Regions from separate parts of the Homo sapiens genome. Here regions 1 and 3 are each linked to region 2. Evidence: fine-mapped expression QTL. A gene starts in region 2. Each other region holds a variant in brackets. All regions are shown on one strand. Distances are from middle to middle.

What was found. PIP is the estimated chance that this variant, and not a neighbour inherited with it, causes the effect.
Region 1: its variant is the best candidate, but not a certain one, in a credible set for the expression of TUBD1 in lung (TOPMed, PIP 0.76).
Region 3: its variant is the best candidate, but not a certain one, in a credible set for the expression of TUBD1 in skeletal muscle (FUSION, PIP 0.67).

Annotation. Positions count from the first base shown.
Region 1 is chr17:59,756,981-59,765,507 of GRCh38, reverse strand. VMP1 (vacuole membrane protein 1) reads right to left here. Exons shown (of 12, transcript NM_030938.5): 6 at 370-537. Among named protein-coding and RNA genes, the nearest start is that of VMP1, 54 kb to the right of the region's middle. The variant G/A (reference allele first, on the strand shown) is at 4,988.
Region 2 is chr17:59,888,325-59,896,851 of GRCh38, reverse strand. TUBD1 (tubulin delta 1) reads left to right here and starts at 3,909. Exons shown (of 9, transcript NM_016261.4): 1 at 3,909-4,155; 2 at 5,811-6,021. The coding sequence starts at 5,850. RPS6KB1 (ribosomal protein S6 kinase B1) reads right to left here and starts at 3,731. Exons shown (of 15, transcript NM_003161.4): 1 at 3,527-3,731. The coding sequence starts at 3,667. RefSeq lists a silencer at 3,314-3,513 and an enhancer at 3,704-3,983.
Region 3 is chr17:59,359,690-59,364,689 of GRCh38, reverse strand. The region is part of intron 2 of YPEL2 (yippee like 2); the gene reads right to left. Among named protein-coding and RNA genes, the nearest start is that of MIR4729, 3.9 kb to the left of the region's middle. The variant C/T (reference allele first, on the strand shown) is at 2,021.

The sequences.
Region 1 (8,527 bases), 130 kb after region 2:
CTATTAGCAGTTAAGTTTTTGGGGAGTCAAAAGTTATATGTGGATTTCCTACTGCACAGGGGGTTGGCACCCCTAACCCACACATGGTTCAAGGCTCAACTGTGGTTCCATCATCTGTACTCCCTTGCCCTGCTGGAGTCTACTTGGCCTCAGTTGCTTTGTGATACATATGGTTCATGCCTTTCTTCTCAATGCCATTCATGAATAGGAGATGCTCTAAAAGGTTTCTTTTGCCTTGGAAGTAGGTAGCTGGTTACTGACTGAATCATTTACTGACAAGGAATATGTTTAGATTCCATTTCAATAAGGTACACACACTATCAAGATGGTGAGGTTAGTTTTAAACAAATATGAAAATGCATATCTTACCCACATGCAGGCTTCAATCCTAACTTTTGAGATGATACTCCACAAAGAAATGGTTCCTTCAGTGCCCTCTTCATCTGGACAAATAATCTGATCAGGATAGGGTGGTTCGGGAAAATTAACTGAATTGCATTCATAAGCAGCTAATGTAACTGAGGCTATATGTGGACCCTATAAAACAAATACAAGAAACTTCTGATAAGAACTATTAAAAAATTATCAATACACATTATTTTAAAAATATATTAATTACTGTGTAAGAAAAATCTTAGCTTTCAAAGAACAAAAATAATTCTAAATAATTTCAAGATGCAGTTAGTAATATGAAGAAAATAATCCTTCCCAGAATCTCTTCCTGGTTGACTTAAAAAAAAATCAGATTTATTGAGGTAAAATTTACACATAATGAGTCACTTATTTGAGGTCTACATTTCAATTAGCTTTGACGAACATATTCAGCCATATAACCACACCAATCAAGATACAGAACATTTCCATTACTGCAAAAATGATCCCTTGGCCAGGCACAGCAGCTCATGCCTGTATTCCCACCACTTTGGGCGGCTGAGCCAGGATGACTGCTTGAAGCCAGGAGTTCAAGACCAGCCTGGGCTACAAAGCAAGACCTCATCTCTACAAAAATTTAAAAAATTAGCCATGCATTGTGGCATGTGCCTGTAGTCCCAGCTACTCAGGAGGTAGGAGGCATTGCTTGAGCCCAGGTGTTGGAGGCTGTAGTGGGCTATGATTGTGCCACTGCACTCCAGTCTGGACAACGGAACAAGGCCCCATCCCTTATAAAAAAAAATCCCTTGTGTTCCTCTGTGGCCAATTCCCTCCCTCAAGTCCTAGTCCCCGGCAACCACTGATCTAATTCCTTGCTTGACTTTTATTTTATTTATCTATATTTCTCATTTGTTAGATAATTCCTTTTATTAAAAAAAACTTCCTGAGCCACTGTTCTTTTAGGCACAATTTGAGAATATCACTTTACGTCCTTACTTAAAAACAGCTGGTGATCTACCACCTCATGTAACCTTTCCCAGTGAGATCATAAAGCAAAAATGTAACTGTGAAACCAGTATCAATGAGTTTTACACAATGGTTCCTAAAAGCACAAGATGAGGTGTCTGCATACTAGGGAGTTGGTTAAAATATAAATTCCTGGGTCCCTTAAGCATAGGTTGATAGATGTCCTCTAGCATACAGTAACTAGCAGCCATCAGCTATTATGAAGATAAATACTTTATTTGTAGAATAAAATTATTTACATATATATACACGAGATTTTATTACTAATTATATTGTGCAAGTATTTCTGAATCTGAAGGTTTCTATTAAAGATTTCTCCAATGATTTTTCATAAATGAGACAGTCCCACAGAAAAGTAAGTGGGCTCTGTGTATAAGAAAGTATTTTAAGATCACTTGATGAAAGAATCTGTGGTTCAAAGTACATAAAATCTAGTGATAAAAATAAAACTAAGACATTCTACTATCAAGATAATAAAATTTTGTTTGATGTTAATATACAAAGTTGTTCACACATATGTGATATTTATCTCTAAATAGAATCGGCATTTTCTGTTAAAATAATACCTAAAAAATGAAATCCTTGGAACTGAATCAGTTAATTATTAGTTTTTTCTGGATCAAAAAAATCGATGTGAAGTTTTAGCCTTTGTTCCTCTTTTTGGGGACTTTTAATTCTTGGAAATGCAGAAATATTAAAGTATTAAAATAATTATATAAGATTTTGAAAATACTTTGACTACTTAGGTTTTTGAAAACTTATGATTAACCATGAAATCTACAATCATTTCTTTAAATGCCAGGTGCACACAAGAGATTTCACACTTGGGGGAAAAAAGAATTATTTTGTGATACTACAAAAAAACCCCAAAGTTTGTGATATTCAGAATAACTGCATAGTTTGTGAAACATTTCTCCTCATACAATTATAGCTATCAGACATAATTAAAAAAAAAAGAAGAAATCAGCTGTAACTTCCACCTTTACTATTAGAAAACACAAAAGAGACATATGAATGCCAATAAGTGAAAAAGAAGAAAATTTAAGAGTTTGTCCATGCTGTCCCCATGTTACTGTCCTCTTTGGCTACAGGTAGTCTACAGCTAAAGTTAGAAATGAATTTCAAGTGAACAAAAATAAATTGCTCTGGGAGCTAAAATAATGAGATTTCTGGGATAGATAGGAAAGAAAAAGCTATATTTGCATTCCAGAAATATAAAAAATGTATCCTAACAGATTAAACACATTATCCAATAAAATAAAAGTTCTTTATAGTTTTCATTTTTAGTTATTCTGAAAAGGGAAATTTTCAACAATCTGATTTGAGAATGTTTTTTCAAGTCTCTGATTTGAGAATTCTTTCTTCTAAAGAAGTCTGTTCATTCACTCAACTAAACTGACATATATTTTCCATAACCACACTAGTAAGTCATGATTACTCAGCCTTTGAGGCAGATGTGGTGGTTCCCAGACAAAATGAACATTAACAACTCAGTTTCTTGTCCTTTGTTCATAGTTTAAACTATATTAAGTGATAGGAAACCTCACAAGTTCTATTCAACATTTTAGCTTAATGGTTTTTAAATATAACCGATTTGAATGAAAAAATATGTTTATATGAAAAATTCAAATAAAAAAATTTTTGATTAAAAGTTTTAAAAGTTACACATAATTCAAACTACTTTTAAAGTATATTTTCTAAAAACTACAAGTCTCACTACAATGTAGCAAATATGAGTCACATTTTTAACCATACTAAACAAAGAAACAAGAGGGTAAAGACCCAAACAGCTATAGTATTAATTGAAAAGCCTAACTGGATAAAACCTGCCACAGGATATAAAATTTATATATTTACTGAGCAGCAGGTTCCAACTCTTGTGGGAGCATGGGTTAGGGATCCTGGTCTATGGCTGAAGGTTTTCTGTCTCACGGCGGATGAAGTAACGGATACTAGACTTTCATTTCTATAGCAAACAATTAGAAAACTGGACAAAATATATGGGACAATTCTTTTTAGACATTGTACTACAGGCAGTACAGGGCTTTGATTACTAAGAGAAGGGATAAAAATGAAGAAACCATACATTGACTCTGGCTTCTTGTCTGTAGACACATTCCATGCCTGCCAAAAATTCCATGGTCAAAAGAGCAAGAGCCCAAACAAAGCATGTTGCTCCTGCCGAGTTGAGAATGAGATTGGGGTTCACGAGTTCAGGATTCAAGAAGGCTGAGGCAGTCAGAATTTATGAGGCAGTATACCAGAAAAGAGAAAGCTACACAGAGAAGGAACTCTAGAAATCTGCACAGGGGTCCCCTTCAGACTCTGGCACACAAAGCTGCATTGCATGCTAAGGTGAGACCACAAGTCCAGGCAAAGAACTACAAGAACTACTGGGAAAAGAATAATTACTGGGGATTTGTAAACTGACCAATTCCCAGAGTTCACACAGGCCTGGGAAACATTTGTGATCAACCAGCTAGAGTAGAGAGACTCAGCATTCAACCCAGAAAGGTCATGCCTGGGTAGGTACGACCTTTCCTTCTGGTCCTAAGGTGAAAGCTACTCTAGTCTGACCCTAACAGGGTTTAAAACAAGTCTTAAAAAGATCAAGCTGATCCACAGGTAACTTAATTGTCCCCTTCACCCTCCCCCCACATCAATGTTCTATAGTGGAAGACAAAATCCATACAATCAACAATTTAATACTACATATCTAGCATTCAATTAAAAATTACTAGCACTCAATATAATATTACTAGATATGCGAAGCAGCAAATTATAACTCATAACCAAAAGAAATATTGCTCAATAGAAACAGACCCAGATTTGATGAAAAGTATCAATCCACAGACTTAAGAAACTGAACAAATCCAGTCAGGATCGACACAAAGAAAATAAAACACATGGGCTGGGTGCGGTGGCTCACGCCTGTAATCCCAGCACTTTGGGAGGCCAAGGTGGGTGGATCATGAGGTCAGGAGTTCGAGACTAGCCTGGCCAACATGGTGAAACCTGTCTCTACTAAAAATACAAAAAATTAGCCGGGCATGGTGGCAAGTGCCTATAATCCCAGCTACTGGGGAGGCTGGGGCAGGAGAATCGCTTGAACCCAGGAGGCAGAGGGTGCGGTGAGCTGAGATCTCAACACTGCATGCCAGCACAAAAAAGAAAAGAAAAGAAAACATATAGGCCGGGCATGGTGGCTCACGCCTGTAATCCCAGCGCTTTGGGAGGCCAAGGTGGGTGGATCATGAGGTCAGGAGATTGAGACCATCCTGGCTAACATGGTGAAACCCCATCCCTACTAAAAATACAAAAATTAGCTGGGTATGGTGGTGCGCACCTGTAATCCCAGCTACTCGGGAGGCTGAGGCAGGGGAATGGCTTGAATCCGGGAGGCGGAGATTGCAGTGAGCCGAGATTGCGCCACTGCACTCCAGCCTGACGTCAGAGCAAGATGCCATCTCAAAAAAAGAAAAAAGAAAATAGAAAATAAAACATAATCAAACTGCTAAAAATCATCACAATCATGTCATAATGAAATTGCTATAATTCAATGACAAGAGGAAAAGTCTTAAAAACAATA[G/A]AGTAGATAAAAATAAAACATCTACAGGGAAAAATAGGTCAGACTTTTCATCAGAAATAATGCAAACCACAGGACATCAGAATTACTTCTTTAAAATGTCAAAGAAAAAAATACCTGTGAATCTGGGAGCTAGGGAAAATATATTTCAAAAAAATATATTTCAAAACAGTACTGTGGATTTACGACATATGAGGAAGTAAAATATACAAGAAGTAAAATGTATGACAACTAAAGCATAAATTATAAATTATGGGAGGAGGAAATGAAGAACACTATTATAAGGTTGTTATATTTTATACAAAATGAGAAAACAATACTTCATTGTTCACCCTGTAAGTTAATGGAGCATATTGCAAACCTTAGGACAACCACTAATTTTTTTTTTCTTTTTTTTTTTTGAGAAAGGGTCCTACCCTGTTGCCCAGGCTGGAGGGCAGTAGTGTGATCACAGCTCAGTGGAGTCTTGACTGCCCAGGCTCATGAGATTCTACCTCAGCCTCCCGAGTAGCTGGGACCACAGGCATGCATCACTACACCTAGCTATACCACTAAAAATTTTAAAAGAAGTAGAACAAACAAGCAAATAAATTCAATACCAAAAAAAAAAAAAAAAAAAACACCAAAAAACAAAACAAAACAAAACAAAACAAAAAAATCCTCAGTCCAAAAGAAGGCAGAGAAAAAAGAAAAAGGAATGAAAAATTAGATATGACAAACAGTTTGAGGGTAGACTTAAACCCAATCATATTGATAACTACATTAATTGCAAATGGACCAAATGTATAAATTCAGGCAGACACTGTCACACTGGATTAGTACACGCTGTCTATAAGAAACCCACTTTAAATATTAAGAACCCAGAAAAGAAAGAGTAAAGAAATGGGAAAAGAAAAACCATTTAAAAAATCCATAAAAAAGATAAAGTAGCTAAATTGATATTAGACAAAGTAGATTTAATGACAAAGAATATTAACAGAGATTCATAGGAACAAATGATAAAAGGTCTAATTCTCAGGAAGTCAGACCAATTCTAAATGTGTATACAACCAATAACAGAGTGTGAAAATACATAAAGCAAAAACTGACAGAACACAGAAATGAACAAATCCCCAATTATAGCTAGAAATTTCTTTATTTTATTTTTTTTGAGACAGAGTCTCACTCTGTTGCCCAGGCTGGAGTGCAATGGCACGATCCTGGCTCACTGCAACCTTCGCCTCTGGGGTTCAAGCAATTCTCCTGCCTCAGCCTCCCAAGTAGCTGGGGTTACAGGCACCCGCCACCACACCCAGCTAATTTTTGTATTTTTGGTAGAGATGTGGTTTCACCATGTTGGTCAGGCTGGTTTTGAACTCCTGACCTCAGGTGATCCACCCAACTGGGACTGCTGGCGCAAGATACCACAACCAACTAATTTTGTTGTTGTTGTTGTTGAGACAGGGTCTCTCATTCCATCACCCAAACTGGAGTGCAGTGGCAAGATCTTGGCTCACTGCAGCCTCAACCTCTAGAGTTCTGGTGATCTTCCCACCTCAGCCTCCTGGGTAGCTGGGACTACAGGTGTACACCACCACGCCTGGCTAATTTTTTGTAGAGGTGGGGTTTTGCCTGTTGCCCAGGCTGGTCTCTAACTCTTGGGCTCAAGTGATCTACCCACCTCAGTCTCTCAAAGTGCTGGGATTACAGGTGTAAGCCAGAGTGCCCAGCCCAGCTAATTTTTTTTCATTATTTGTAGACAGGTCTCCCTGTGTTGCTTAAACTCCTAGGCTCAGGGGATCCTCCTACCAACACCTCCCAAAGTGCTGGCATTACAGGTGTGAGCCGGCGCACCTGGCCCAGATAATTTTTTTTTTGTTATTTTTAGAGATGGGTCCCCCTATGTTGCCCAGGCTAGTCTCAAACTCCTGGGCTCAAGAGATTCTCCCAACAAGGCCTCCCAAAGTGCTGGGATTACTGGTGTGAGCCACCACACCTGGCCCCATCTAATTTTTCTATTTTTTGTAGAGACAGGGTCTGCCTATGTTGTCCAGGCTGGTCTCAAACTCAGTTCAAGGGATCCTCCTGCCTTGGCCTCCCAAAGTACTGGGATTAGAGGTGAGCCACCATGCCTGGCACATACATAGTTGAAAACGTCAACATCTATATTTCATTAATTGATAGAACAACTACACTGATAATTGTATGGACACAGAAGATTTGAATAACATAGAAAATACCACCCAGCAAGAGCCAAATATATATTATTTTCAAGTACACATGGAATATTTGCCAAGACAGACCATCTGCTGTGCTATAAAATGAGTGTGAACACATTTAAAAGGATGTGACATGTGGCAAGGTAAAGATCAATACAGGGAGTACATCTTAAAGTGGCAAATAGGCAAGGCAGGGTGGCTCATGTCTGTATTCTCAGCACTTTGGGAGGCTGAGGCGGGACACTCACTGGAGCCCAGGAGTTTTGAGACCAGCCTGGGTAACATGGAGAGACCCTCTCTCTCAAAACAAAACAAAAAATTAGCTGGGTATGGTGGTGTGCACCTGTAGTCCCAGTGAAGTGGAAGGATTGCTTGAGCCTGGGAGTTCAAGGTTGCTGTGAGCTGAGATCACGCCACTGTGACAGAATGAGACCCTGTCTTAAAAAAAAAAAAAAAAAAAAAAAAAGTGGCAAATAAAGGTCTGTTTTATTTTTGGTAACTCAGTATAGTTATTCTAGACGAAGTTAAATCAACAAGATAGCTTGGTTATTTGCAACATATTGGACATCTGGATTTGCTTCATTTCAGAGTTCCATATATCTAGTCTCATGAGCTGTATTACATTATATTTTCCAAAGATTGGTAATGGAATAATTTTGCCTTGTCCAGGATAAAAGATGTAGTGCTTGGCCAGGCAGGAGTATGTCTGGGTGAGAGCAAACTATACTTAGATGAAAGGGTAAGATTTCTAGTAAGAGCAGATGTAGGTACTTGTCTGTGGAAAAAGATATTTTATCTTTTAAAAACTCTTTTTACATAAGTTTAAAAAGTTACATTTCCATGATTTACATTCTTTCATGAGTTTTAGTGATTAGAAAAGTTTTAGTGATTAGAAAAAAACCAAACTAATTCTATGTAATCAATTTTTACTCTAGCTTTAAGAATAACAATACACTACTAGTTCTTCTAATTAAGAGAAACTTAGAATTCAAAAAAAATTGTCCTAGAAGGGTAAAATTATACAAAACCACATCTATCTATCTATCTATCTATCTATCTATCTATCTATCTATCTATCTATCTATCTCCATCCTAATCTGGTAGTGAAGAGTTTTAAGTAGTTTTCTGATAATAATATAGTATCTATGTTAAGCCCAGAGAAAGAAATCCTTGTGCCACAAACACTAATTAGGGTCATAGTAAGAAAGGGGTGAATATATTCATACTTGAATTTGTGAAAAAATCATATTAGTAAAATGATAAATCAGTATGTACACTGCTGCTTAATATTAAGTAAAACATTTTCTGGATTTTGAACTTTTCAAGTTTTCTGGATTTATACTAC
Region 2 (8,527 bases):
TCCATTATCCATCTTGAGGCACCTCTTAGAAAAAATAACACACTAAAAAGAAATATTTTCAACTCCAAAAAGTGTTGCTAAGACATATTTTACAGAAGTCTCTTCCTCAAAATCCTCTTTAATTGCCTTTGCTCTTTCCCCAGACTTTCTCTCCCCAAAATCGGGGCCATATTTCTTTCTCTTTCCTATTTCCACCAATTTTTCTGACCTCCTCCTCACACCTTCTCAAAATCCTACTTGCTTGTACCCAGCAGGACAAAAGCCCTGGAACACCTACTGTTCTTGAAACACAAGAAAGTGAAAAGAAAAGTCCCAGTTTACACAGGAATTTTAACAGAGTACTGTACTTTCAAAAAAGAATAAACCTGGCTGGGTGCGGTGGCTCACACCTGTATTTTGAGAGGCCAAGGCAGGCAGATCACCCAAGTTTGGAAGTTCCGGACCAGCCTGACCAACATGGAGAAACCCCGTCTCTACTAAAAATACAAAAATTAGCCGGGCCTGGTGGCGGGTGCCTGTAATCCCAGCTACTCGGGAGGCTGAGGCAGGAGAATCGCTTGAACCCGGGAAGTGGAGGCTGCAGTGAGCCGAGATAGCGCCATTGCACTCCAGCCTGGGCAAATAGAGCAAGACTCTGTCTCAGAAAAGAAAAAAAAATAAAATAAAATAAACCCAGTCTGGAAATTCTATCAGTTCAACTAATGAAGATATAAAGCACCTTCCTATCCAGTTTTCTCCCCTGCCCTGCTCCAAAGCCACTGTCATAGAGAACCAACATAACTGATAAAGAGTATGGTATATGGTATAAATAATGAAAGTAATCTCATATTTGTTTCCAATTGTAACTAGTGTACCATTATGTTCGATTAAGAGGCTAATTGGAATTCTGCATGAAAACATCATTGAAAAAGCACACACCAACCGGATGCAGTGGCTCACGCCTGTAATCCCAGCACTTTGAGAGGCCAAGGCTGGCAGATTGCTGGAGCTCAGGAGTTCAGGCCCACCCTGGGCAACATGGTGAAACCCCATCTCTACTAAAATACAAACAATTAGCCAGGCATGGTGGTGCGCGCCTGTAGTCCCAGCTACTCGGAAGGCTGAGGCACGAGAATCGCTTGAGCTCAGGAGGCGGAGGCTGCAGTGAGCCGAGATCAGGCCACTGCATTCCAGCTTGGGCTACACAGTGAGACTCCATCTCAAAAAAAATTAAAATAAAATAAAGTAAAAAGCCTGGTGGGGTGGCTCACACCTGTAATCCCAGCACTTTGGGAGACTGAGGCAGGTGATCACCTGAGGTCAGATGTTCAAGACCAGCCTGGGCCACATGGTGAAACCCCATCTCTACTAAAATACAAAAAAAGTAGCCAGGTGATGTGGCGCGCCCCTGTAATCCCAGCTACTTGGGAGGCTGAGGTAGGAGAATCGCTTGAACCTGGGAGGCAGAGGCTGCAGTGAGCCGAGATCGCACCACTGCACTCCAGCCTGGGTGACAGAGGAAGACCCTGTCTCAAAAAAAAAAAAAAAAAAAAAGCCAGGCGCAGTGGCTCACACCTGTAATCCTAGCACTTTGGGAGGCCGAGGCGGGCAGATTACGAGGTCAAGAGATCGTGACCATCCTGGCTAACACAGTGAAACTCCATCTCTACTAAAAATACAAAAAATTAGCCAGGTGTGGTGGCACGCGCCTGTAGTCCCAGCTACTCAGGAGGCTGAGGCAGGAGAATCGCTTGAACCCAGGAGGCAGAGGTTGCAGTGAGCTGAGATCACGCCACTGCATTCCAGCCTGGGTGACAGAGCAAGACTGTCTCAAAAACAAAACAAAACAAAAAAACCAGAAAGAAAGAAAAGAAAAGAAAAGAAAAGAAAAAGCACACAACTCAATACCCACTTTCTAAACCGTGTGATTTTGATTTAGTCTTATTTGATTATGAAAAGAACAGTATTGGTCAGGTATGGTGGTTTATGCCTATAATCCCAGCATTTTGGGAGGCCGAGGCTGGTGGATCATTTGAGGTCAGGAGTCCGAGAACAGCCTGGCCAATATGGTGAAACCCTGTCTCTACTAAAAATACAAAAATTAGCCAGATGTGGTGGCGCATGCCTGTAATCCTAGCTACTTGGGAGGCTGAGCCATGACAATCGCTTAAACCCAGGAGGCTGAGATTGCAGTGAGCTGAGATCGCACCATTGCACTCCAGTCTGGGTGATAGAGTGAGACCCAACTCAAAACAAAACAAAAGAAACAAACAAGAAGAACAGTATTATTTTAGGCCACTTAGTTTCTTAAAGTGTTCAAAATTCTTTATATACATCATCTCAATCTTTTGTCAACAGTAGGGCAGGTGCCAGAGGAGAAAAACTGAGGGTGAGGCAAGGGAAAGGAAGCCCCTGTGTAATTAGAGCAAACATCTGACGTCATTAACCCATGTATTCAACTAGACATTGGAATTTAGATGCTAAACTACCAAGAGGTTATCAACTGATGATCATTTGGTCCAGGATCAGTGATTTAGTATGACAACATTTTTGAACTTCAGGTGCAATTTGTCATTTTTTGATAAATTTATCTAGGGAAAAAAAAAGTTATTCCATAAAGATTAACAAACCACTAAGCCAGCAGGGTGAAACCAAGCTATGCATTAGGAAATACAATTCTAAATTTAGCACCCTAAATTACAGCAAGGAAAGCCCTCATACCACCATTCACAAGTCTCTGTTCAGGCAACTTATTTCTGGCAAGCTAAATCAAGGCTGTCAACTGGTTTTTGGTTTTTTTTTCCACCTCAAAATTACATTAATTATTCTGAAAAAAATACAGACATCTTCAACTTGGGGAAAGGTTACAAGTGCCGTGTGTCCTTATAAATGCTTATTTTAAAAAGTCACACGGAAGGGGGTAAAAAAAAAAAAGCAAACAAACAAACCCTGGAAGATTGGAAGATGCAGCAGAGCCCCCTTGCTCCCGAAATAAAACTCCTGGTGGCTGTAACAGCAGCGGCAGTGCTACTCCCGACAGAAGTTTTCAGCTGTCACTTCTAACAGCTGAGCGCTTCCTAGGAGAGAAGCGACAGGCCGAGAAGAGAGGTGGTTGTGGGAGGTCTGAAGATTCAATACTTGAAATTCTAGACTCGAAGGGAAACCCTCCACACTTCGCCTGCACTTACGGGACACCCAGCAAGAGCAGCCCCCGTCTCCCCAACACACGCTCACGCCACCCGCTCCCCGCCACACTCAAGTCCAACAGCTCGAGGAATCGACCACGCGCCCGTTCTCTTTCCCTCTTCAGATCGCTCGGGGCTGCGCTGACCTGGGGCTAAGGGTGCGACCTGCACCTGCGAGCCCCGCAGAGGCCTCACACCTAGGGCCATGACCGCCCCGCCCGCTCCCCTGTCTCAGGCCGCGCGACCCTCAGCTCCTCAGGAGCCCCCCTGGGTCTCCACGCTCTAGGACACACCGCGCTTCCTGAGCCCGCGCCGCCGCCCCGGCCCTGTCACCTCGGGCCCCCGGGGACCCCGGGCCTCACCCCCTCCTCCAGCTCATCCTCAGAGCCCGCGTCCTCTGGCTGGTCCAGGTCTATGTCAAACACTCCTGCCATGTCCTCAGCTTCCCTGTCTCGGAAGTCCGGGGCTGGGTAAAAGCCGTCCCGCCTCCTTCGTCGCCTCATGGGCCCGGACCCGCCGCAGCCACCACAGCCGCTGCCGCCATCACCGGCTGCTTAGGCTCAGTGCGTCTGCGCCTAGGCCTTAGACTGGCTCCTAAAGTTCAGCGTAGGAGCATGCGTACAGGGTTCCGTGAAGCCAAACAGTGGGCAGTGGACATGCGCAGAACTATCGGCAGGATCCAGGCGCTGGCAGAAACATGCGCAAAACACCAGCCGAAGTCGCGCTTGGAGGACTAGAGCATGCGCATTGTCAGCTGGAGCGTTCGGTGGACAGTGAGCATGCGTACCATATCTGAAGTTCGTAAATTGAAATTGAACATGCGTAATTAATCTTTCTGAATAGGAAAAAATATATACACAACAAAACTCTCCGTTTATGGAACATGCGCATTTGTTCTCAGTAAGTTTTTCGTTTTGAAAGTGAGCATGCGCATGGTGAGTAGGTTGGTCCGAAGTTTGAACCGGACAGAAGCGCTGGTCGGCGTCTGGCGGTGAGTCGGGTTACGTGTGGAGAACTCCTGGGGCCCGTGGGGAACGGGGGACCTTTTGGCTTTGCTCTTTACTAGTTCTGTGGCCTTGGAAAAGTCAATAACCTTTCAGAGCCTCAGTTTCCTTATCTGTAAAATGAGGATAATAATAAACCTACTTTGCCGGTTTGACATTTTAAGCACAGAGTCTGTCTCACAACCCACGGCTCATTTCCAGTGCTGCATAGACCTGATGTGAAGTCTTTATCAAAACTTGTCTTTTCCTAGGTAAAAATAATGAGGAACTGCTCTAATGTTTCTTTTGCTTTCTTTCTTTTTCAAATGGAGACAGGGTCTCGCTGTGTTGCCCAGGCTGGTCTGGAATCCCTGGGCTCAGGTGATCCTCCCGCCTCGGCCTCCCAAAGTACTGGGATTACAGGCATGAGCCATTGCGCCCGGTTAATATTTCATCTGGTTTTCTTTCTCCAAGCTGCATCTTTCTTGCTGTCCTACCTGAGCTAAACACAAAATCTTTCTTACAGGTCTTACTAAAGTTACCAGGCTAGACTAGTGGAGAAAGCGTAAGCTATTATTTAGAAGAGAGAAAATTAATGTTAATTGAATGTACAATGTTGAGCACACTTCTGTGTTCTACATGTTCATGTGGTGTGAAGGGTGGTACTACTAATTTCTTCAATCAGCATTTGTTTTGTCTTGTTTTTATTTTTTTAATTTTAATTTTTTTTTTTTCTGGAGACAGGAGGATGTCACTTTGTCACCCAGGCTGGAGTGCGGTGGCAAGATCTTGGCTCACTGCAGCCTGGACCTCCCAGGCTCAGGGGATCCTCCCACCTCAGCCTCCCGAGTAGCTGGGACTGCAGGCGCACACCACCACGCCAAGCTAATGGTTGTATTTTTTGTACAAACAGGGTTTTGCCATGTTGACCAGGTCTGGAACAGCCAGGCTCACGTGATTCTCCCAACTCAGCCTCCCAAAATGCTGGGATTACAGGTGTGAGCCACGCACCCAGCCTCTTTTTTTCTTTTATCACTCCTCAACTGAGGAGAATGTTTTGTTTTAAACATATGTTTAGGAAAAAAGTGATTACAAATCAGATTTTGGAAACTATTGAGCTGTGTATGAATGGATTCAGGTACAGTAAATCACAAATCCCAAAACCATGTAGAGAGTATGAGAACTTCCTTGAATGACTAGCTCCTTAGACAACACAGCTGTTCTATCTCCAATATTATATACGTATGTGGCATTTTAAAATGACTTTTTGGGCCGGGCGTGGTGGCTCAAGCCTGTAATCCCAGCACTTTGGGAGGCTGAGGTAGGTGGAGGTGGATCACGAGGTCAAGAGTTCAAGACCAACCTGGCCAACATGGTGAAACCCCATCTCTACTAAGAATACAAAAATTAGCCAGGCGTGGTGGCACGTGCCTGTAATCCCAGCTACTCGGGAGGCTGAGGCAGGAGAATCGCTTGAACCTGGGAGGCGGAGGTTGCATTAAGCCGAGAACATGCCACTGCACTCTAGCCTGGGTGACAGAACAAGACTCCGTCTCAGGGGGGAAAAAAGACTTTTTATTGATGTATAATTAACATACATGGCATTTTATTTGTTCTTATTAGTAATGTAGTGGTTCTCAAAGCGTATTTTTTTCGATTACAGGTTGTTTTTAGAGGTAATACACCTAGTTTGTGGCTCAGCATGTCAATTGTAACAGTGCAACTTGGTCAGTGTGGCAATCAGATTGGTTTTGAAGTTTTTGATGCTTTGCTTAGTGACTCACACAGTTCCCAGGGACTCTGCTCTATGAGAGAGAATGAGGCATATCAAGCATCTTGCAAAGAAAGATTCTTCAGTGAGGAGGAGAATGGAGGTAGGTGTGGCCCACAGTCCTCTCCTTTACTCTGATCTAACCAACCCCTTCAAAGCCAGGCCTTCCACATGGTTTTTAAACCCCATTCCTTCCCATCTCACTAGGGAATTACTTTGTTTTTGCTTTTCATTTCTATGTTAATAATCTTTGCTTTTCCAGTGGCATTTTCCCTTCTGCATGCTCAGATCTCACCAATTTAAAACCAACCAAACAAAACTCATCTATTGACTGGCTTTCTTCTTCTTATCTCTTTGCCTTTCATCTAAGATTCTCAAAAGAGGACCCTGCTGGCTGGGCGTGGTGGCTCACGCCTGTAATCCCAGCACTTTGAGAGGCCGAGGCGAGTGGATCACAAGGTCAGGAGTTCAAGACCAGCCTGACCAACATGGTGAAACCCCATCTCTACTAAAAATACAAAAATTAGCTGGGCGTGGTGGCATGTGCCTGTAATCCCAGCTACTCGGGAGGCTGAGGCAGGAGAATCACTTGAACCCAGGAGGCAGAGGTTGCAGTGAGCCGAGACCGCACCACTGCCCTCCAGCCTGGTGACAGAGCGAGACTCCATCTCCAAAAAAAATAAAAGGACCCTGCTTAACCACCTATGATCCTGCTTCTGCCCCACATAGCATCATTGAAGCTGCTCTAAGAAAAGTTTCCAGTGACCTCCGAATCACCAGATCCAACTACTGTTTTTCTTTTCTTTTTTTCTTTTTCTTGTAGAGACAGGTTCTTACTACACTATGTTGCCCAAGCTGGAGTGCGGTGGCTATTCACAGGTCTCCTGAGTAGCTGGGACTGCAGGTGCATGCCACCATGCCTGGCTCTTTCTTTTCTCTGTCTCTCTTTTTTTTTTTTTTTTTTTTGAGAGAGTCTCGCTCTGTCACCCGGGCTGAAGTGCAGTGATGTGATCTTGGCTCACTGTAACCTCCACCTCCCGTGTTCAAGCAATTCTCCTGCCTCAGCCTCCCAAGTAGCTGGAATTACAGGTGCCCACGACCATGTCTGGCTAATTTTTGTATTTTTAGTAGAGACAGGGTTTTGCCATGTTGGCCAGGCTGGTCTCGAATGCCTGATCTCAAGTGATCCGCCTGCCTTGGCCTCCCAAAGTGATGGGATTACAGGCTCTCTTTCTTTTTCTTTTTCTTTTTTTTTTTTTTTTTTTGAGACAGAGTCTAGCTCTGTCACCCAGACTGGAGTGCAGTGGTGCGATCTTGGCTCACTGCAACCTCCGACTACCAGGTTGAAGCAATTCTCCTGCCTCAGCCTCATGAGTAGCTGGGACTACAGGCATGCGCCACCACGCCCAACTAATTTTTTTGTATTTTTAGTAGAGATGGGGTTTTACCATGTTGGTCAGGCTGGTCTCGAACTCCTGACCTCAAATGATCTGCCCACCTCAGCTTCCCAAAGTGCTGGGATTACAGGCGTGAGCCACTGTGCCCAGCCTCTCTTTCTTTTCTTAATTCACTTTACTCCTCTACTGCGTTTGATAACAGTAACGTATAAAAACTCTTTCCAGCAGGGCGCAGTGGCTCACGCCTATAATCCCAGCACTTTGGGAGGCCAAGGCAGGCAGATCACTTGAGGTCAGGAGTTAGAGACCAGCCTGGCCAACAGGGTAAAACCCCGTCTCGACTAAAAATACAAAAATTAGCCGGACATGGTGGCACATACCTGTAATCCCAGTTATTCGGGAGGGTGAGGCAGGAGAATCACTTGAACCCGGGAGGGGGGTTGCAGTGAGCCGAGATCTCGCCACTGCACTCCAGCCTGGGAAATAGAGCGAGATGCCGTCTCAAAAAAAAAAAAAAAAAAAAAAAGCCAGGCATGGTGGCTCATCCCTGTAATCCCAACACTTTGGGAGGCCGAGGTGGGTGAATCACCTGAGGTCAGGAGTTCGAGACCAGCCTGGCCAACGTGGTGAAACCCCATCTGTACTAAAAATACAAAAATTAGCCGAGCGTAGTGGTGCGTGCCTGTAATCCCAGCTACTTGGGAGGCTGAGGCAGGAGAATCGCTTGAACCCGGGAGTCGGAGAGTGTGCCATTGTACTCCAGCCTAGGTGACAAGAGCGAAACTCCGTCTCAAAAAAGAAAAAAAAAAGACAAAAAACAACTCTCTCCTTGAACCTCCTTCTCCTAGTCACCCCACTTTTCTTCTCCAGTTGTTGCATCTCCCCTGTCCTCACTTGCATAGTTCTCTCTGGGCAACTTCACTGTCATAGTTTGCTACATTTATTACACCTGTGACTTTCAGACCTCTAGCCCAGCCTCTCTTAAAAGCTCTAGACAGATTAGTGGATATCTCCACCCACATCTCTCATATGAACCTGAAACTCAACATCTCTATTCCCAAGGCATTCATTATTGTTCCTTGTGCTCTTGCTGCATACATACCATCAAACAAGATCTGCTTATTTGACCTCCTATATACTCCTTGAAACTGTTCTTCCCTTTCCACCTTCACTGACTTGCTTTAGTCTGGCTTTTGTTCTTTCTTACCTGGA
Region 3 (5,000 bases), 530 kb after region 2:
GCTAAGATCGTGCCATTGCACTCCAGCCTGGGTGATAGAGCGAGACTCTGTCTCAAAAAAAAAAAAAAAAAAAAAAAGACACAGAGGGATTACTTAATGTACACAGCTACTAAATGAATAAGCCAGGTGGTTGGGCTCGGAGTTATACCACGAGCTGCTATGTTATATGGCCTCATATCATCTTATGCTACTACATTAGACTCAGAAGACGCAGGGGGGAAGTAGAAGGAACTTTAAAGACAGTCTAACCTATTGCACTCATTTGGATAAATGAAGAAAAGGGAGAGCCAGAGAGATGAACAGTCTTGCCCAAGATCACAGCGCTTGACACTGTCAATCTTCCAGATGCCAGCCCTCTCCCAGGGCTATGTGCACCAGCTATGTGCAAAGTGGTGTGTCGGGGGAGGTGGCAAAGTGCAAAATCAAGAGGCCCTCAGTTTCTCTCTGGGCCTTGGTTTCCTAATCTGTAAAATGAGGAGTTGAACTAGAAACTCCAGGTTCAAAGGTACCTCCAGCCACAAAGTTCTGAGCATCTATGACTCCAGGACATTGAGAATCTTGTTAGGAAGCAAGACAATTATACATAAAAAGTGCACGCAACCATAACAACACAGACCATACCACAAGACAGTCATTAATTTCCAAATGAACAACCAGAGAGTGAGTTCTACAGACATTCAGAGCATCCTATAAGCCAGGAAGACTCACTAGAAGAAAAAAAGATGTGAACTGGTCTTCAAGAATGGGTAGGAACTGAATAGAGAGAGAGGAAAGGAGAAGGATTCACCAAGGCAAAGGAAATGACAGGAGGGAAGAAAGGGTGGGATTTGCCACAAGGATTACTGAGTAAGACCATAAAATAGGCAAGGCCAAAAGAACCTAGGCCACACTGCGAAGCGGTAGCAAAAAGTACATGAGCAGATCTGAATCTGAACCCATCTGGCTTCTTGGTAACCTGGTAACCTATGGCCTTAATCCCCACATTGAAAGGATGTTGTAAAATAAGTGATGGAGTAAGTAAAATACCTAAAGGAGTTCCTGGCACACAGTAGGTGCTCAATAAAGAGGAAAGTGTTCAGCTGGGTGCGGCGGCTCATGCCTGTAATCCCAGCATTTTGGGAGGCTGAGGCAGGTGGATCACTTGAGGTCAGGTCAGGAGTTCGAGAGCAGCCTGGCCAACATGGTGAAACCACACCTTTACTAAAAATACAAAAATTAGCCGGGCCTGGTGGCGGATGCCTGTAATCCCAGCTACTTGGGAGGCTGAGGCAGGAGAATTGCTCGAACCCAAAAGGCGGAGGCTGCAGTGAGCAGAGATCACGCCACTGCACTGCAGCTTGGGCAACGGAGTGGGACTCCATCTCAAAAAAAAAAAAAAGAAAAAAAAAAAGGGTAAGTCTTTAGGACCAGTGTGGTGGCTCACCTGTAATCCCAACACTTTGGGATGCTGAGGTGGGAAGTCTGCTTGAGGTCAGGAGTTTGAGACCAGTCTAGGCAACATAGCGAGACCCTGTCTCTCTCTCTCTCTATATATATATCTATATATACATAGAAACTAAGAAGGTGTTCAATCAATAGTAGCTAATAGCAGCAACATAGATTTTCCATCTTGTGTGTTTGTTACAACACCAAACAACCTTATCTGTAACATTCTTCTACCCTCCATGGTGAGCCTTGCATTCCCTTGTTTCCTAAACATCACAGGCTCTTTAAGTGCAGGAATCATCTTATCCCTACCATCTAGGTTTAAATGTTGTTTAAAGCACAAGAAATATTGAACTGAACAAGTAGTGTATGACAGTGGATTCTAGTCAGCCCCCAAACGCAAACAGCCAAGCTAGCAATGGTGCAGATTTACCATTCCAGAGGCCAGAGGGAGTGCCACTGCTCAAACAGAAACAGAGGGATCCTGCACCCACTCCTTGCTTCCCAGGTTGAACACCCTGATGAAAAAGAGTTTCTTTGGATTTCTGACTGGGAACACAAGCTTGATTACCAGTGTCCCTGCTGAGAGCCTAGA[C/T]GCTAATATACAAACCAGTCTTATGATTGGAACCTTAAAGGCATCTGCAAACCACAGAGTTAATTTTCAGGGTACGCCTCATCGCTCAAGTCAACATTTCCTTTTGGTATTTAAAGTAACCACACAGAAAGAATCACATTTGAGCAGATTTTGTGCTCCAGCTGCCTGCAGTCTGCAGCAAAAGAAAAACAAAACATAAAGATGATTCACCAGATTTGGTCCCAGCAGCTCCCTTGATACTAAATTGGTGAGCAACTCTATGTGTGCCCAGATCATTAATTTTCACAGGGAGCAGGCGTGACTGTGCGACAGGTCTGCCTCCCATTTAAAGCATGTGACTTCCTGAACCCAATTCCCCTTGTCCATGCCTACACATGATAAACACAATTAAAAAAAAAAAAAAACCATAGAATGCTTCTATTTCTTTGCCAAGCAGTGGTCAATGAGTATTTGCTGAATGACCACCATGTACCTGGAACACATTCGGACCACTGCAATGGACAGACACCACTTGCCCCATTCTAGTCTCTTCCTCACTAGTTCATCTACCACACCACAGCAGCACTAACCATTTGCTGGTCATGTCATTACTTGCTTAAAAGTCTTCAGTAGCAACCAACTGTCAATGGGACAACATCCTAGCTTCTATTCTTCTAATAATCTGGCTTCTACCTACACCTTTAATGTTTTCACAGTTTTTCAACCTCTACCCCAAAGAACGGCTGCTCCCTGTGTGCTCCCTGCCTCTGGCTCTTTGTTCCTGATGCTCCTTTTACCAGCTCCTCCCCATCATTTGAGGCTTCTGCTTCCAGGCACACTTCAATGCCACTTCTTCCACCAAGTCTTCCCAGAACTGCATTTTCTAGAAAGATGGATCTTAAAGTTTGGTTGTGTGTGTGTTTTTTTCCTTTTTTAACCAACAGTATCTTTGGTGGAGAGCCTGATGAAAGCCATGAAACCCTCTCTAGAAAAATATACATGCCCACAGAATGACACATGCAATTTCATGGAGTCCTTGAAGCCAGTCCACGGACCCAGATTGAAACTCACTGATAAAGATCTCTATCTGAGTAATAAGTCATTCACTCAAATATTCACTGAGAATCTACCAGTCTTAGGAGCTGTGCTGCTGCTAGAGACACAAAAACGATGTCACAATCATCTCCTCAAGTAATTCACAGGCTAATGGGAAACATGCGTCATCACACTGTGATAACTGCTTTAAGAGAAACATAAGATGAAGTAGAAACTTCAAGAAGGCATAACATGAATCTATTATCTCCCAAACTAGGATAAAAGTTCCCTGACAAAATTTTTGAGTAGTATTATAATATCTAGAATAGTGCTATGTGCATGCACGCGCACACACACACAGAGTACGTAATTAGTATTTGTGCAAAGACAGAATGGAATCAATAAGATGATAAGAGCAAGTATAGGCACAGTCCCCACTGCCGTCACCCACATACACCAGAAACTCTTCAGATATAGTTAAAATGGTCCCACTGTGGACCAACCGTGCTATACAAATTATCCCAAGCTGCGTGCGGTGGCTCACATCTGTAATCCCAGCACTTTGGCAGGCAGAGGCAGGTGGATTGCTTGAGGTCAGGAGGTCGAGACCAGGCTGGCCAACACAGTGAAACCTCATCTCTACTAAAAATACAAAAATTATCTGGGCATGGTGATGCACACCTGTAATCCCAGTTACTCAGGTGGCTGAGGCACGAGAATTGCTTGAACCCGGGAGGCAGAGATTGCAGTGAGCCAAGATTGCACCACTGCACTCCAGCCTGGGTGACAGAGTGAGACTTTATATCAAAAAAAGAGAAAAAAAATCCCAGCCTAATTCATGGCTCTTTTCATCCTGAACGGGTTCAATCTCTGCCCCTATGGAGGAAAGGTACCATAAGATACTATATACTTTACACGAGCCCCAAATAGTTTCTTTTCACCAAGAAACACTGTAAAGTAACCACATCCCTTTGTTTGGAGACTTTCTGTACAGATTTGATTCACCTGCCACCCCTTCCTGGGTGGTCAACAGATACTTCTAGAGGAGTACAAAAGAGCCAATGCTTCATTAGTAGGAGACAGAGCTTTCAAAGGTCACATAGTTGAAGAAAATAATTAAGTAATTTGGGGTTGGGAAATGTGATTCTCTTTATAAAAGCCAACTTGGTAGAGCATGTCTTGCAACTGGACTTATTGGGTTGTGCTGGAACTCTTCCCTAATTTGTCACTTCTGCCTTGGCTGTAGCTTAGAAGTGATGTCTAAGAATCACTAACACGGCCGGGCGCAGTGGCTCACGTCTGTAATCCCAGCACTCTGGGAGGCCGAGGCAGGCAGATAACTTGAAGTCAGGGGTTCAAGACCATCCTGGCCAACACGGTGAAACCCGTCTCTACTAAAAAAGTACAAAAAATTAGCCGGGCGTGGTGGCGGGTGCCTGTAGTCCCAGCTACTCGGGAGGCTGAGGCAGGAGAATGGCGTGAACCCGGGAAGCGGAGCTTGCAGTGAGCCAAGATCGTGCCACTGCACTCCAGCCTGGGCAACAGTGCAAGATTCCGTCTCAAAAAAATAAATAAATAAAATTTAAAAATTACCTGGGTGTGGTGGCGCATGCCTGTAATCCCAGCTACTCAGAAGGCTGAGGCAGGAGAGTCTCTTGAACTCAGGAGGCGGAGGTTGCAGTGAGCCGAGATCGCACCACTGCACTCCAGCCTGGGCAACAGAGTGAGACTCCGTCTCAAAAAAATAAATAAAAAAGAAACACTGACATTCAACAGCAAAGTGGCAGAGGCACCCACTAGAGCTCAGGCCATACAGAGCAGTTGTTCCCACCCTTCTGTTTCTTAGTACCACTGCTCTGGCAAAGAGCCAGGTCCCACTATTCTAGAAACAAAAGGTTTACTTTTTGAGATAGACATTTATGCCTGCAATCTGATTTTTCCCTCCTCTTAAAACATACTCGAATTT